Linked DNA regions of Homo sapiens: regions 1 and 2 are each linked to region 3. Evidence: fine-mapped expression QTL. A gene starts in region 3. Each other region holds a variant in brackets. All regions are shown on one strand. Distances are between the middles of the regions.

Region 1 (2,766 bases), 170 kb before region 3:
TTTCTCCACGCCAAAGCTAGCAATTAGCACAAAGCACTCAAGGAATCCATTCCATTCTCTCACATAATTTGGCATTTTCTGCCTTCTCAGTCAAGTACAGCTAATGCAGCCGTCTTCCCTAAGGGGAATATATATATACTGGACCGAACTCCGGTTTTAACCTAAAGATGACGTAAGCACCTCATAAGGGCATTTTCCATCCACAATGGGGCAGTTTGCCTGCCTTATTATACAGACGTGAAATGCTCATCGAAGGTTCCCAGGAGCCCACGGGGAATTGAAAGTAAAAACAACTTTGCTGTTCAGAGACTCTGGAGACTTTTCCTCATTTGGAGTGTGTGTGGAGATGAATGCTAAGCACGAATCTGTGCTTACAGGGTGTGAAGCAAATTGGAATCTTGACCACAAGAAATGAAGGTGGCTAATCTAATTTGAAGACTGTGTGCAGGCAAATGAGTGCATGCGATCTTCCTGGAACCCACGTCCTACCGTTAGCAAAACCCAAGAGAGAGAGGAATATAGATTTATCTTCAGGCCATGATGGGTCCCCGAGAAACGCTGAGCACTTACTTCCAGCTCTAAAATGATGTGACTCTGTGGGTCTGTGACCCTGTGACCCTTAAAAATTACTTGATGAAAATAAAAATACACCCTGACAGGTTCACAAATAATGGTAATGGAAGTCACCCAAGCTACCGATTCTTGAGCAACTACCATATGCCAGGAAATATTAATCAGGCCAGTTCTCTACTTCTCTCTGTTTCTCTTTCTCTCTCGGTTCAGGCTGTCTCTATATAGGTAGGTATAGATATAGTAGATATAATTTGACACAAAGGATTCATGAAGTTAGCATTGTCACCATTCTTAGATGAGGTCATTGAAGTCGAAAGAGGTTAAACAACTTGACCTTGATAACCAACTGAAAAATGGAAGAGGCAGCATTTAAACTCTGAGCAATCTGAATCCGAAATTGTTTCCATTGCTTCACCCTTTATGGGTATGTATTGAATATAGGTATACTTGTAGAAACATAAAGTGACAAACCTTCAAGTAAAATTTGGGGTAAAGTCTCCTTCTAGCTGTCCTAGTGGTTTAATCGGTGTGGTCTTTAGTTAATGGTTGCTGGATATATTCACAAAATAAGAGGAAACTAGAGGCAGATTCCTATGAAGATTACTATGACAGGACAGCATCTACCCCAGAGTATGAGGTGAGAAGCTT[G/C]GCAGGGTGCTTCCTCCTGGCGGCAATTTAGGGTACTGCTACTTGAAGTGTGGTCCATGGCCCAGTGACATTGGCATCTGGTGGGAACTTGCGAGCATTTCAGGCTGTGCTTGAGGACTGCTGAATCAGAATCTGCCTTTTAATAAGGTCCTGAAAAAGAAAAGAATCACTTGCCAGAGTGATTCTTGTTTACATTAACAGTTTGAGAAATTCTGATTTAGGGTATGAAAGTAGGAATAATATGGATCGTTTATAAAACCTGGGAGATATTTATGAGCACCCATAAATCTAAGTTTCTGGAGTACTGTGATTTACATTAGTTTCCTTTGCTTTTAAAGGGAACATGGCATATAAGAATAAAACAACATTTATTAAACACTAACTCTGTCTCAGGTTCTATACTTGGCAATTTACATTTATTATTTTATTTAATTCTTATAACAACTCTATAAGGTAGCCAATCATTATTACACTCATTTTGTAGAGGAGGAACTGTTTATGGAGATCAATGAACATGCTTAAAGTCACTTTGCTGGTAAGCGGTGAGTCAGGGATTCAAATCCAGGCAGTGTGACGCTAGGGTTTACACTTTGTGTTGATCAGTGAACTATACTGCCTCTTCAGTCCATGCAGAGAAAACATCGGGAGAGTTCAATGGAGTATTGTGCTTCAACAAAGTTAGCTAGAGCTGCAGACTTCAATCACAACCGCCCTATACACAGGTGTATCTCCCAGTGGTTATCAAGTCTGCAGAAGCTAATTTACTACTCATTAAAATATAATGTTTGTGAATTAACTGAGAAGTAAATTATTCACAGTGATCAAGCAATGTCGATCATAATGAGACAAATAGACATCATTTGCTCCTGTTATGATACACTGACACATATACATCATCCGAAATTTATTCTTGCCAAAAAAAAAAAAAAAAGCATTTAACTTGGATCAGATCAGTCAAGACTGGCAAACTCAAATCGAAGAGCAGTCTCCAAAACAATTTTCCTGTACTCATCATCGACATCAGTTTTGTGAAAGGAAAAATAAAAAGGCAGGAAAACTGTTGTAGATTAAAGGAGGTTAAACAGACATGCCAACCCGATTCACTTTGTAACTTTTTATTGAATCCTAAATGATGTGTCCAATGGTAGAAACAACTACACAAATCATTATAAGGACAATTGCGGATATCTGAAATATGGACTGTCTATATATAAAATTATAGAATTGTGTTGCTGTTCAAATGTGACCATCTTATTTTGATTGTGTAGAAGAACGTTTTTGTTCTCAGGAGATGCATACTGAAGGGTTTAGAGTTGAAGGGTCATTTATAGGTGCATCTTCCTCTTAAATGTTTCAGAAAACAGGTAAGAACCAGATAAATTAGGACTAGGCACACTTGGCTCATGCCTGTAATCCCAGAACTTTGGGAAGCTGAGGCAGGATGATCACTTGAGGGCAAGAGTTTAAGACCAGCCTGGGTAACACAATGAGACCCCCATATCTACAAAAAATAATTAGCCAGATGTGGTGGTTTGTGCCTGTCAT
Region 2 (2,766 bases), 56 kb before region 3:
ATCTCAGGGGATATCCTGTATGAAAAGGGAAAAAACAATGAGTCATGGATTCTAACCTCCTGTTTATAACCGGGGCCCACAAATGATCTGTTGCTGAAGGAGAAGAAAGCCATTAATCTCCCAACTCAGGGAGCAATTTTATATTTTGAATAAAAACAAAATAAACAGCATTAAGGAGGGAAATAAATCAGATATGCAGTAATTAGTTTGAAGGAGCCGGATTTTCCTGCCTAACACTCTCTTTGGAACTTCTGCCTTATCCATCAAAGCAAAAGTGTATCAGATGACATGGAGATTTTCCATTCCCTTTTCAGACAAAATTAGTCAGCTGATGTGAATAGTAATTTGACAGGACCCAGAAGAGAGAGCATGAGTGATGGGATTATAATAAATGCGGGAGAGGATGCTTAATAAACTTTGGTGAAGCCCTGGATCCTGCACTTTTCCTCTCCTACCCTCTGTGTAACTCCTGATTTATGAAATTGTTACTTTTTTCTCTGTGAATTCTTAGAAGGCTTGGACTTTTTAAAAATAAAGAATCTAAAAAGGACCTTATTTATTTTCTTACCCAGTATCCTTATTTTAAAGATTTAGAAGGCTCAGCCCAGAAACAATAATTGACTTGCTTAAGTTTCCACAACAAAATCAGCTGAAGCACCAGGATCAAAAACCTGGCCACGTGCCTCCCCGCCCTCAAAGCTCAATAAAGACAAAAGCACAAACAATTGTGAAGTGGTTCCTTACTGAAGGCAATCTTGGGTCTCATGCAGCACTTTCTGGGTAAGAGCCCCCTTGATATTGTTTGGCTTTGTGTCCCCACCCAAATCTCATCTTGAATTGTAATCCCCACGTGTCAAGGGAGAGACCTGGACTGGATCATGGGGGTGGTTTCCCCTATGCTATTCTCATGACAGTGAGTGAGTTCTCATGAGATCTGATGGGTTTATAAGGGGCTCTTACCCCTTCACTCACCTCTCTCTCTCACCTGCTGCCATGTAAGTCGTACCTCTTCCCCTTTGCCATGATTGTAAGTTTCCTGAGGCCTCCCCAGCCATGGGAAACTGTGAGTCAATTAAACCCCTTTCCTTTATAAATTACCTAGTCTC[G/A]GGTGGGTCTTTATGGCAGTGTGAAAACAGACTAATATACCCTTTGGTGTGAAACCACAGAGGAAGGCTGCTCTTCCCTCTTCAGGCTTCCTTCCTCGGGCATTTCCCTCCAATCAGGCACTCTCTCCAGAGTCCTCTATCACTCATTTGCAGCTTATTCTGAATTCTAATGACTAAGTTTTTTTCTCCCCATTATTTGGGAATGTCCTGCTAGCAGTTGTTTTTTTCAGGAACAGTTTGGTAACTGATTCATTTGAAGCATAGACATAATGAATCTCTCCCGATGTATCTATAAACCCTTGCATAACTCCCTTTACTATTATGAATGGAGCTCTGCGAGTAAGTTGTCCCTTTCCCTTTCATCTCCCACCATCCCAGCTACCCTGTTTGGGTCTACACATCTAAAGTTTAATAACCCTCCAGTGGAAAGAACAGGGAGATGTCAAAAGATGAAGGATGCTCATCAATGCATTTGTTTCTAATAAAAATACAATAATTCAAAAGCAGAATATAAATGTCCATCAGTAATGAACAGCTAAGTAAATAATGATTCATTATTCATACAACAAAAATCTATGTAGCTATTAAAAAATATAGAGAAGAATATGTATTAACATAAGAAGATGTTCAGGGTACATTGTCAACATGTGTTAATATGAAGATGTTATCAAATAGCAATTATTAAATGATTTAACTTTTTACAAAAAAAGGCAACAGGTTTTTATTGAAAATATGACATGATAGTCCCAAATATGTGATATAAATATGACTTTTTATTACATTTCATAATATAGTAAACATATTCATTTTGTAAGAAAAACAACACAATGTTGTTGTTTTTATTATTTTTAACAAAATATCCAAGCAGTCACTCTGCTTAATTAGAGAAGCAATGAAAGAAATTATGGCCAAGTGTTCTCTCTGACTGTAAATATTCAGAGGGGGCCTGGGTTGCCCCATACTTGAGTCACCACTCTACTTTCTTTATTTTACCTCTTGGTTTTGTTTGTTTTTATTTATGAAGTTTCATTTGAACAGAAGTTTCTAAGGGCAGGTGTGTATGTGTGCTTTGTTCTGGTTTCTTTTTTAGTGAGTAGAATGGGTTCTTATCTGTGAATATTCTCTCATTATGGACAACAGTAGGAATGTGAACAATTATTGAGAGTCTCTAATGTATCAGATGTCGTCCTAGGGCTGTCTCCAAATGTTATCCTGTTTATTTGTCATCACTGCTCTGAGAAGCAGGTGTGACTTCTGATCATTTTAAAGCATAGGCACAGAGGCTTGCAAAGATGCAGGGACCTGCCCCAGCTCATGCAGGTGGACAATGGTGGGCTGAGAGCAGTGAGAACCAGTCCCATCTCCTCCTACCCACTGCAAGCAGGCTACCAGTTTGGCTGGGGGTTGTTGGTTGAAGTGTATCCCCCCAACACCTGCAACCAAATTCATATATTGAAGCCCTAACTGTGCCCCACCTAGTATCTCAGAATGTAACCTTAATATAACCTTATGTGGAGATAGGGTCTTTACAGAGGTAATCAAGCAAAAATGGTTAATGGGTGGGCCCTAATCTAATATGTATACTTAAAATGACTGGTAAATATAGATACTTAGTAAATATATATACTTACAGGGACTGGTGTCCTTGTAAGTAGAGGAA
Region 3 (2,766 bases):
TCGTCCCGGTAGAACACGGAGCATTCCACCTCGTGCAGCCGCGGATCGTAGGGCTGCGGCTGGGGCGGCGGCGGCCCGTCCCCACCGTCGGGCAAGCCGCCGCCATCTGGCCCCTGAGGCGGCGGCTGCGGCTCCACGTCCTCATCGTCATTGGAGAAAATGTAGGAGACCCCAATGCGGGGCCCGTCGTCCCGGTCCACGCCAGTCGGGTCGGCCGTGGGAACTTCCTTGTAACTTAGGTGGGTCAATTTCTCCACCTGGTTGCCCATCACGCTGCGGACACACGTTCACACCGCCGCAAGGGGAGAAAGCGAAACCAACTCCAGGGTCATTTGCACAGGTCCCCGGACAGGGGCTGAGGCTACCTGTTGGGAGAGGAAGGCAAGAAAGCCATGCAGGAGCCCCTCCGTGAAAAGGGCGTTTTGTTCCGAAAAAGAATCGGTGGGGGCTCAGCACCTGGAGCCATTTTAGGGGGAAGTCTCGGGTGTAGCGAGCTTTCCCTCGTTTCTCCACCTGTAAGGTCACGGTCACAGGAGACTGGGCAACTCCTGTTCTCCCTGTCCCCAGCCCTTCGCCTGGCCCTGGCAAAAGCCCATTGCATCAGCAGCTTCTACTGCTTCCGCCTGCGCCCTACCTGCCAAGCTTGGGCAGGAAGAGGGAAGGAAAGAGAAACTTTACGCCAATCCCCCCCCTCCTCTGCTAACTTCCCCTCCCACCCTCGGGCCCTAACTAGCCCCGGGGACGCCTCCTCCCCACCAACGCATCCATCCCCAGAGGAACAAGCGAGGATCTCAGAGCGCGACCTGGACAGGTGAGTCACCCTACCTGGCTCACCTGCAGCGCTACCTCCTCCCGGCTCGCCCGCCCTTCCCCCGCGCCCGCCCTCAGGCTCGGGTTACCTGCACAAACTCACCCGCGGAGAGGTGAAGGCCGTGGGGCCTGGGGAAGGGCTCCCTGCCGCGCCCCGAGACTTCTAGGGCGAGTTTGAAGGTGTAGGCTCGGCAGTCCCTCCTCTCCCGGCGCGGGCGGCAGCGAGGCTGGGCAGAGGGCAGCGCAGCGGGCAGACTAGGGGCATGTCTTTCCCCCGCGGCTGCGTAGCGCCCCGATACTTGAAGGCGGGGGGCAATCCCTGTTCACACCGCGCTTCCTCCCGCCAGCTGGGGCTGCTGCCCCTCCTCAGCCAGCTCTCGGGGGAGGTGGGGCGCGAGGAGGAGAGGACGGCAGCCTCGCAGCCTGGCGGCAACAGCTCCCGCTTGGGCCGGGCGAGCAACAAGCACCGGAGCTGGAGGGACGGGATTGTAGATCCGGCTCCGGGCTCCCGGGCGGGAGCGCAGCCCGTGGCATTTAAAGAGACAGGCGCTCACTCCCCGAGCTCGGGTCTTTTTCACATTGCGCCGAGCGGCCGGGAGCCCCGCCCCCGCCCCGCCCACTCGGGCCTCGGGACTCCGCCCGGCCACGCCCCCGCGCCGGAGCGGGTTTAAATCCCCCTGTAAATAATCCACCCGCCGCCTGGGGCTGGTGCTGTGAGCTCTGCTTGCCTTCCGAGACAAGTTAGAAGGCAAACACAACTTGCCAGTGTGGAAATGAGAAAGGGAAGGAGAGTTTGGTGTTTGCGCCTTTTCCCTTTGACCTGTTTTTTCCCAGAGTACCTGGAGAAGGAGGAACAGTCGTTTCTTTTCTTTCCTGGAACATATTTCTTGCCCTAAAGGTCACAAGAAAGGATTCTTCACCAGGACAGCTCGAAGAGTGCGTCATCCTAGAGGTGTTTTCAGAGTTAGTAGTGGGAAACTTTGGGGTAGAAAAGAAAATCGCAGAAAAGAAACAGTATAAAACAGAACGAAGACTTATTCACTGACTGGGTCCCAAGACCACCGCTCTGTTTATTAGATACCCCTGGAAGTTAGTACAAAGTTCATAACCTCCGTTATTTCCAGAGAGGTACCAGTTCGTTGGATAGTGAGAGAAGCGTGCAGCTCTGACTGCTTTTTTTTGGGGGGGTGGGGGGTTAGGGGATGTAGGAATTGCCTAATTCCTACATCCTAATTCTAATTGTCCTTAAATTAGAAACAAATTAGCAGAGGCCCTAGTGGATATATTTCCTTCCTGTTGACTTAGGGAAGTGACAGGAGACCAGTAATGCCTACTAACCTCCACCACAAAAGGACACTTCCACCTCTCCACTGGTTTCGTTTCTTTTACCTAAATGTAGGCTACCAAAGTGTTTTTTTTGTTGTTGTTGTTGTTTATTTTTTTAAAATAATGGGTCCGGTGAGGGTGGAGGATTAACAGCTCTGTTTACAATAAACAAGTTTAGGCACTACTGCAAGCACCCAGACTTATTCGTAGGGGACTTAAGAATGCGATTCAAGACCTATATTCTGTCTTCAGTTGCTTTCTTTTGACTAATTTTTTCCAGCATGTATAACCAGCCAGTGGAAACAGGAATATACTAGCACTACTGTGATCCTTTCTAGTTTAGGAGAAAAAAATAAAAATCATTCTACTTATGTAATTTTGAGTCCAAACAATCAATATTGGCAGGGCTGTGATAGAAATTAGTCCTTCAGCAAGTCTGAAGTATAAGTTAGATCAACATGAGACTACTGTGTGCTGTGCGATTCTGTTTCAATAATTTCAGACTGGCTGGCCTCAGGCGCATGTGACTGAATGAATCCAACACACCCCAGTCCTTTTGATAGCAAATGGTGTGGGGGGCTGCTGTTACCTGAGTGATATTTGTTGCCATCATATGATCACCATATTATA

The links. PIP is the estimated chance that this variant, and not a neighbour inherited with it, causes the effect.
Region 1: its variant is fine-mapped to the expression of LRATD2 in whole blood (TOPMed, PIP above 0.99).
Region 2: its variant is fine-mapped to the expression of LRATD2 in whole blood (TOPMed, PIP 0.92).

The regions. Positions count from the first base shown.
Region 1 is chr8:126,382,629-126,385,394 of GRCh38, forward strand. No RefSeq gene overlaps it. Among named protein-coding and RNA genes, the nearest start is that of LRATD2, 170 kb to the right of the region's middle. The variant G/C (reference allele first, on the strand shown) is at 1,222.
Region 2 is chr8:126,501,067-126,503,832 of GRCh38, forward strand. No RefSeq gene overlaps it. Among named protein-coding and RNA genes, the nearest start is that of LRATD2, 56 kb to the right of the region's middle. The variant G/A (reference allele first, on the strand shown) is at 1,107.
Region 3 is chr8:126,557,121-126,559,886 of GRCh38, forward strand. It overlaps LRATD2 (LRAT domain containing 2), which reads right to left and starts at 1,358. Exons shown (of 2, transcript NM_174911.5): 1 at 914-1,358; 2 at 1-365. The coding sequence starts at 269. LOC105375751 (a long non-coding RNA gene) reads left to right here and starts at 756. Exons shown (of 6, transcript NR_188069.1): 1 at 756-811. RefSeq lists an enhancer at 760-1,596 and a silencer at 1,311-1,490.